2 linked regions of the Homo sapiens genome follow. The protein of the gene in region 1 interacts with the protein of each later gene in a biochemical or structural test. Each region holds a gene or a part of one and is shown on either strand. Other genes may lie near its edges. The genes, in order: DOT1L and STAT1.

Region 1 (3,811 bases):
GCAGCAAGTGGAAGTCCACCTTCTCGCCCATCTCCGACATCGGCCTGGCCAAGTCGGCGGACAGCCCGCTGCAGGCCAGCTCCGCCCTCAGCCAGAACTCCCTGTTCACGTTCCGGCCCGCCCTGGAGGAGCCCTCTGCCGATGCCAAGCTGGCCGCTCACCCCAGGAAAGGCTTTCCCGGCTCCCTGTCGGGGGCTGACGGACTCAGCCCGGGCACCAACCCTGCCAACGGCTGCACCTTCGGCGGGGGCCTGGCCGCGGACCTGAGTTTACACAGCTTCAGTGATGGTGCTTCTCTTCCCCACAAGGGCCCCGAGGCGGCCGGCCTGAGCTCCCCGCTGAGCTTCCCCTCGCAGCGCGGCAAGGAGGGCTCGGACGCCAACCCTTTCCTGAGCAAGAGGCAGCTGGACGGCCTGGCTGGGCTGAAGGGCGAGGGCAGCCGCGGCAAGGAGGCAGGGGAGGGCGGCCTACCGCTGTGCGGGCCCACGGACAAGACCCCACTGCTGAGCGGCAAGGCCGCCAAGGCCCGGGACCGCGAGGTCGACCTCAAGAATGGCCACAACCTCTTCATCTCTGCGGCGGCCGTGCCTCCCGGAAGCCTCCTCAGCGGCCCCGGCCTGGCCCCGGCGGCGTCCTCCGCAGGCGGCGCGGCGTCCTCCGCCCAGACGCACCGGTCCTTCCTGGGCCCCTTCCCGCCGGGACCGCAGTTCGCGCTCGGCCCCATGTCCCTGCAGGCCAACCTCGGCTCCGTGGCCGGCTCCTCCGTGCTGCAGTCGCTGTTCAGCTCTGTGCCGGCCGCCGCAGGCCTGGTGCACGTGTCGTCCGCTGCCACCAGACTGACCAACTCGCACGCCATGGGCAGCTTTTCCGGGGTGGCAGGCGGCACAGTTGGAGGTAGGCAGGGCGGCCGTCCGTCCGCCCCCCGCCCCGGCCCCCGCCGGAGGCCCCTTCCTTTGCAGGTTCCCTTCCGCACTCTCTTGCAGCAGGAGCTGAGCTGCAGGTCCCCTGGTGCCGGCCGGCCCCCGCCATCCGTGCACGGTGGCGAACTCCAGTCCTGTGGGGAGAGGGCTCACGCTGAGTCCGTGTGTCTTGGGTTCTCTGGTTGTAACCGCGTCCCTCTTGTTTTCAGAAGGCCACCGTGCGCAGGGCCACCAGAGCATTACTTTCTCCCGTGGAGGTCACCTGCTAGGTGTGGCCGCCCGGGCTCTGGCAAGGCTCTGGGAGCTGGTGTTGGGTAAGAGCGAGTCCCCGCAGTGCCTGCCCAGACAGGGCGGAGAGGAGCCGCCGGGGGGAGCGGCCTGGCCCTGGGGCTGCTGCGGGGCGGGGGGCCGGAGGGCGGAGGGCGGGCCACCACGAGCCTGGCCGAGCCGCTGCTTGTGCTTGGTGCCCGCACACGCCTGGCGGCGCCGTTTCGCTTCCCTTTTTGTGAGCCTGCGGCTGCTGCTCTGCGCTTGCCTGGATGCTGCCGCTTGTTGAAGCTGCGTTTTTCTCTCCTATTTGCAGGTGTCTTTAACCACGCGGTGCCCTCCGCCTCTGCTCATCCGTTTGGAGCCCGTGTCGGCCGCGGGGCTGCATGTGGCAGCGCCACACTGGGCCCGAGCCCGCTGCAGGCGGCGGCCAGCGCCTCGGCCTCTTCCTTTCAGGCCCCGGCCTCGGTTGAGACCCGGCCGCCCCCTCCGCCTCCGCCTCCGCCTCCCCCGCTGCCCCCGCCTGCGCACCTGGGCCGGTCCCCCGCGGGGCCGCCCGTCCTCCACGCCCCCCCTCCACCTAACGCCGCCTTGCCTCCTCCCCCAACGCTGCTGGCCTCTAACCCTGAGCCCGCGCTTCTGCAGAGCCTCGCGTCCCTCCCGCCTAACCAAGCTTTCTTGCCCCCCACCTCTGCTGCCTCTCTGCCGCCTGCTAACGCCTCTTTGTCTATCAAGCTCACCTCCCTCCCGCACAAGGGCGCCCGCCCCTCCTTCACGGTGCACCACCAGCCCCTGCCCCGGCTGGCCCTGGCCCAGGCCGCGCCCGGGATCCCACAGGCCAGCGCCACGGGGCCGTCCGCGGTGTGGGTGTCCCTCGGCATGCCGCCTCCCTATGCCGCGCACCTTTCGGGGGTTAAGCCGCGATAAAGACCTTGCTTAGCTAGCAGTGCGTATTGTGTAAGGTAAGGCCAGAGCCCTGCGCGGTGGCTCACTCCAGACACTGAACTGTCCTTCCTTTGGCAGAGAAGACGGCCACAGGGCTCGGCAGAAGTTCCGGGGGTCCTGAGGAGGGAAGAGGGAGAGAGCCAGGGAGACCAGGGAGATGGTCGCGAGAGGAGGGACTACAGGACGGGCACCAGCCATGGAGTGGCCTGAGTGTGTTGGGTTCCAGCTGCCCGCAGCTGGGTTCCTGCGGTGACGCCGCAGGACTGAGGCCAGCCCTGGGGGCAGCTGTGCCAGCCCCTGTGGGCGAGGCTCACGGGGTGCCAGGCCAGGGGGCTGGGAGCTCTAGCTCCTAGAGCAGTCTCCAGGGCTCCATCCGCACCAGGCCCAGGTCACTCATGACGGGTGGCGTGGCTTGGTGCTGTTCCCCAGGCGCCCAGCATGTAGCAGGCACGGTGCCGGCTGCAGAGGTCCTGGAGAGCCAGGGTGGCTGGCTGGATGCCTCTGGTCGGGGCTGTCTGGCCAGTAGCCTCGGATGCCCTCATAGGGAGCCAGTGAAGCCCCAAGTGCCCTGCCTGCCTGGGGGCTGATGGGTTCCCGGCGGGGTCGAGAGGCAAGCTCTGTGCCCTGCGTGTTGAGGCCCCCTTGCTGGACACGGCTGATGGCCACACTGCCCTGTGGTCATGGCCCACAGCCGAGGGGCTTTCAGCTGCTCAGATGTCAGCACCAAGCTGGGCAGGTTAGTGTAGACGGTGCCCACCTTTGAGACCAGAAGGAAGTTGGAAGCAGGAGTGATTTTGATGATGTGAGGCCTTCAGGGAATGTCCTGTTCACTCCTCCCCCAAGAGGCTGTGGAGACTGTGGCCGCTGACCCCTGAGGGCAGTTGGCCACCCGTGCCCTCCAGGGACATGGCGTGCCTGGCGGCGTAGTGCAAAGGTGCCCTCTGCTTGCCCCTGGCCTTCTGCCTCAGGGGCCCCTGGGACACAGGCCTTCCTGGGCGAGTCCAAAGCCCACCGGGCAAGGAGAGGAGGACTGGGAGCCAGGAGCCAAGGCGGAGGCTGTGGCCAGGGCTGGTCAGCCTGGCGGGTCAATGCGGGCACCTGCGGGCTGGACAAGCTATGCTGGGTCTCTTAGGAGATGAGCTGCAGGTAGGGTGGCTTTAGCTGGACTCGGCTGTGTGTCTCCTTTGGAGGAAGGCTGGAGCTTGGCCGGCGTGTCCAGGTGTCAGGCTCCCTGGTCTGTCACGGGGCACGCCCGTCGTCTGTTGTGGTTAGAGGAGCTGGCACTATGCCTGTCATGGTGCTGGCCCCAGGTGGCGTGTGTGCTCGTGGGAGGCCTCGGTCCCCAGCCTGGGTGAGTGTTGGGCTCCCCCAGGCGCGATGGTAACCTCAGGCCGCTCTTCCCGCTGTGCCCTTCTGCAGGTAACTAGGATTTCTACCTCAACCGCGAGACCTATGCAAGGACGGTGTGGACCAACTCGCGCCCGCGGCATGGTGCCCGCCGGCCTGCCGGGCTCCCACCCCTGGACGGCAGAGGCAAGGACGGACGGGAGCTCCACTGTGAATCGGCGGCACGCGCCGCAGGAGGCTGGGACTGGTCCAGTTTGTACTGTCGATAGTTTTAGATAAAGTATTTATCATTTTTTAAAAAGTATAAACAATTCTGACTTATTTTATTCCAT
Region 2 (3,811 bases), on another chromosome or scaffold:
CGGTCCAGCATATCTGCTTTAGGTAGATCCTTATTAGTTACCAAGCAGGGAGGGAGACAGCCACAGATTTTTCCACTCAGGTAAAATAAAACTGAACTGAAAAATCAAATTGCTTCAGCAGGAGTGCCAAGGGGCTGGGCTTGGGTCCGTTTCTACTGGTATATATGAGGATAACTAGCTTTATAGGCCAGACATTTCCTCACACTCCTTTGGAAGGACATTTGTGGAGTAGGCGTGACCTCATGCCTGCATACATGTGCTCGGCTACAAGTATGCATACACACTCTTCCATGCCCTACTTGAAAATCCAGACTCCTTCCCCAGAGGTCTGGCAGGACAAGATTCACTTGTGTCTGCTCTGCATATTGCCACCTGTGTGCTGATATAAATCCTAAGTTACATGATGGTCATGGGAGACTCTCCGTTTTCCTAATGAATTTTAGGACTTGCTTATATCAAGTTTTTGTTGTGATTTTGAATCTTTAGGATCACTATGTAAAAATGGACTTAACAGTTATCCAAAAAGCTAAGTGTTACTTTATCCTTTTAAATTACATTTAATGATGTTTTAATCTTTAAAAATCATTACTTCTTTATGCCAGATTTATTGTTTGTAGTAGGCAAAGAAGAAAATATATCTTTTTAAATGTGTATAAGAAAAATAATGAATTTTACCATATGAATCATAAATATAAAACAGAAGTTTGAAAATATTTGAGTTAAATTACAAATGTACTGTGATTTGTAGGAGAGCAATTTTGGGAGAGTCTTGTGATTTGTCTTAAAGCAAGTCTAATTAAAATAATGTTTTTCATGTATTTATTTGATAAAATCACAAACTCATTTTAAAGGCATATTTATTGGATACCTACTATGTGGTTGACATTGTTCTAGGGATACACCAGTGCACAGAATCCTCCACCAACATCCATCCCTTCAAGTGGTGAAAACAGACAATAATGAAAATAAAATATGTGGTAGGTCAGATGGTGGTGTAAGTACTATGAAGAAAAATAAACCAGGGAAAAGAGAGAGCATGTTTCCAGGGTGGGAGGTGGTTGCAGTTTAAATAAAAGAGGCCAGAGAAGGCTGCCCTGATATGTTGACAATAAGCAAAGACATGAAGATGTGTTTCGTGGAGGAGAAAAAAAGTTCATCCCCAAACTCAATTAAAAACAGGCTTTAGACTATAAATGCCATTTAAATAAAATATTCCTGGGACAAACTATGTTTTGGATTAAGCAAGATATTTAAGAGTACAACCTGATGCTAGGAAGGCTTTCTTTGGAGCTATGGTTTCCATATACATAGAAAGAATGTATATTCTTTTTCCCTATAGGATGTCTCAGTGGTACGAACTTCAGCAGCTTGACTCAAAATTCCTGGAGCAGGTTCACCAGCTTTATGATGACAGTTTTCCCATGGAAATCAGACAGTACCTGGCACAGTGGTTAGAAAAGCAAGACTGGTAAGGAAAATTCACTAGACAGAAGAAGAAGTTTACACCTTAAAAGTACTGGTTGATTAAGTGACTTGGGGCCATGTTTACTGGAAGATGAATTCCATCAATGGCCACTGGAATTATTTGTTGTAGAAAAGTTTGTTGATTTAAAAAATGACTCAACAAAGTTGAGCCAAAAAGTGTCTCAACAAAGTTAAGTATATTAGTCATTAAGCACTTTTATACAGTTTTGCCAAATTTAATTTATGATAGATATTCCTAAATGCTTTGGACAAGTTACGGAATACTGACACCGATTATTTTCCAACTTAGGATCCAGACTATAGAAAGAAGTAATTTAAAAGAAATAAAGCCAAATTAATGGTTAAACATTGATTAGAAATATGAAGAAGGTAGTAAAATTAAGGGGATTTTTTTTAACTGATAGGTGTTCTACTTTAAAATTTATTATTTGCTAATTTAAAAACGTCCTGAAAGTATTTGACATAGAAAGTGAAGGGTCCCCTGTTGACTTTTCCCCCTTCAGAGATAGTCACCATGAACACTGTCATGCACAATCTCTTAGAGTTTAGAATTTTTTGTGCTAATTGCACATAAGAGAAATACCACATAAACTGCTGCTAAAAGCAATGTCAGTTTCAAAAGAAGAAAATAAACCTAAGAAAATACTTAAATTATTTTTAATAATTTCAATAAGGAAACCAACATTTGTTTTGTCTGTTTTACATAGACATTTAGTTCTAGAATGAAATGTGTAAATGTTAAATCTCCTAGGGAGCACGCTGCCAATGATGTTTCATTTGCCACCATCCGTTTTCATGACCTCCTGTCACAGCTGGATGATCAATATAGTCGCTTTTCTTTGGAGAATAACTTCTTGCTACAGCATAACATAAGGAAAAGCAAGCGTAATCTTCAGGTATGACCTGGTTTTTGTATTTTAGTTGAAATGTTCTCATGTTTATGGAAGGCAGTTTTCTTCATTCAGCAAATACAATTGAGCACACACTTATTGGTATTTAGAGAAGTAATAGAGACTAACTCCATTTATGTTTTCTACAGCATCAGTAAATATAGCATAAGTAAAATAAGATACCAATTTATTTTATAAACACAGAAGGAATTTTTAGGGTTAAATGTATCACCTCTTAGGTATCAGTAATCCTGAGAAAAATGTGATGCTATAATTTTGTTTTACTAAAAATTGTCAATATTTAAACCAAAGAAAAGGGGCTACATTTTAAGAGCAATGATCTATAGTAATACATTAAAGCTCCAGGGAACATTAGTGGTTAGGTTCAGGTCCTTGCTATGCAAATGAGGAATAAAACAGGAAAGGTTTGACTTTCACCTAAGGAAGTCAGGTGACTTCAGGAACTAGACTCCACCTTGCCTTGCTTCTGGTGGAGTTGGCCTCTCCTGGAAGAGAAAGTCAAAGAAAGATCCAGACATGAGAGAACATGCTATAGAGTTTTAGGGGTTCTTCAGATGTACTCCCAGCATGCCCTTGGGGTGGCTATCATATTTATGTTGTGTAATAACAGAACTTTTCTGTTTTAATGGAGGTGAAAGCTATCATTTTCTTCTTTCATACAATACAACTGAACTTTTCAGCTTAGGTAATTGGAAGTTGTTTTTTTTCCTTTGTGAATGTATTTATGATTTTATTTACGAGTGGGGAAATCAAATTAACTTTACAGAAATTTGTTCTCATACAGACCTTGCATGAATGTACCTGTATAAAGAGCCATTATTGCTATTGGTAGTGTTTTGCAAACTAGCTTTGACAATGGCAACAGAAAACCCTAGATGAATATCTTTGGTCTAGTTCAAAGCTTAGACCAACAGATGCATTCATTGAGGAATGTCATGTATAGTTTTTATATCATTTGCATTGTCTCGGGATCCTAACCAAAGATAATTGGCCTTAAGAAATATGGAAAGATATTAAAGTAAAAATATTATGTGAACCATATGTGAAAATACTTGTTTTTAAATCAAAAAGTACGTTAGGTACCTGCACTTAGAAAGTTAAAGCAATTTTTGTCATAATTCGTGAAAGAAATATTTTGATTTTAACAAACATAGCTTATATAGAATTTAATAGATGAGAGATGAGGTTTCCCGGAGAATATAAACAAATTCATATCAACTTACAATACACAATAAAGTAAACATTCTGCATTTTAATTTATTTTTGTTCTAACCACTCAAATCTAGGATAATTTTCAGGAAGACCCAATCCAGATGTCTATGATCATTTACAGCTGTCTGAAGGAAGAAAGGAAAATTCTGGAAAACGCCCAGAGATTTAATCAGGTACTTTTTTCTCATTGAACACATAAACTG

What was found.
Region 2: the proteins of DOT1L (region 1) and STAT1 form a complex in vitro, tested with the Homo sapiens proteins (one study listed by BioGRID).

The regions. Positions count from the first base shown.
Region 1 is NC_000019.10:2,226,234-2,230,044, forward strand, and holds part of DOT1L (histone-lysine N-methyltransferase, H3 lysine-79 specific), read left to right. Parts: coding exon 1-894; intron 895-1,503; coding exon of another isoform or gene 1,504-2,114; exon of another isoform or gene 2,115-3,551; coding exon 3,552-3,559; 3' UTR 3,560-3,811. UniProt on the Homo sapiens protein: Histone methyltransferase. Methylates 'Lys-79' of histone H3. Nucleosomes are preferred as substrate compared to free histones. Binds to DNA.
Region 2 is NC_000002.12:191,007,533-191,011,343, reverse strand, and holds part of STAT1 (signal transducer and activator of transcription 1-alpha/beta), read left to right. Parts: intron 1-894; exon of another isoform or gene 895-972; coding exon of another isoform or gene 973-977; intron 978-1,339; coding exon of another isoform or gene 1,340-1,340; coding exon 1,341-1,468; intron 1,469-2,200; coding exon of another isoform or gene 2,201-2,236; coding exon 2,237-2,381; intron 2,382-3,682; coding exon 3,683-3,781; intron 3,782-3,811. UniProt on the Homo sapiens protein: Signal transducer and transcription activator that mediates cellular responses to interferons (IFNs), cytokine KITLG/SCF and other cytokines and other growth factors.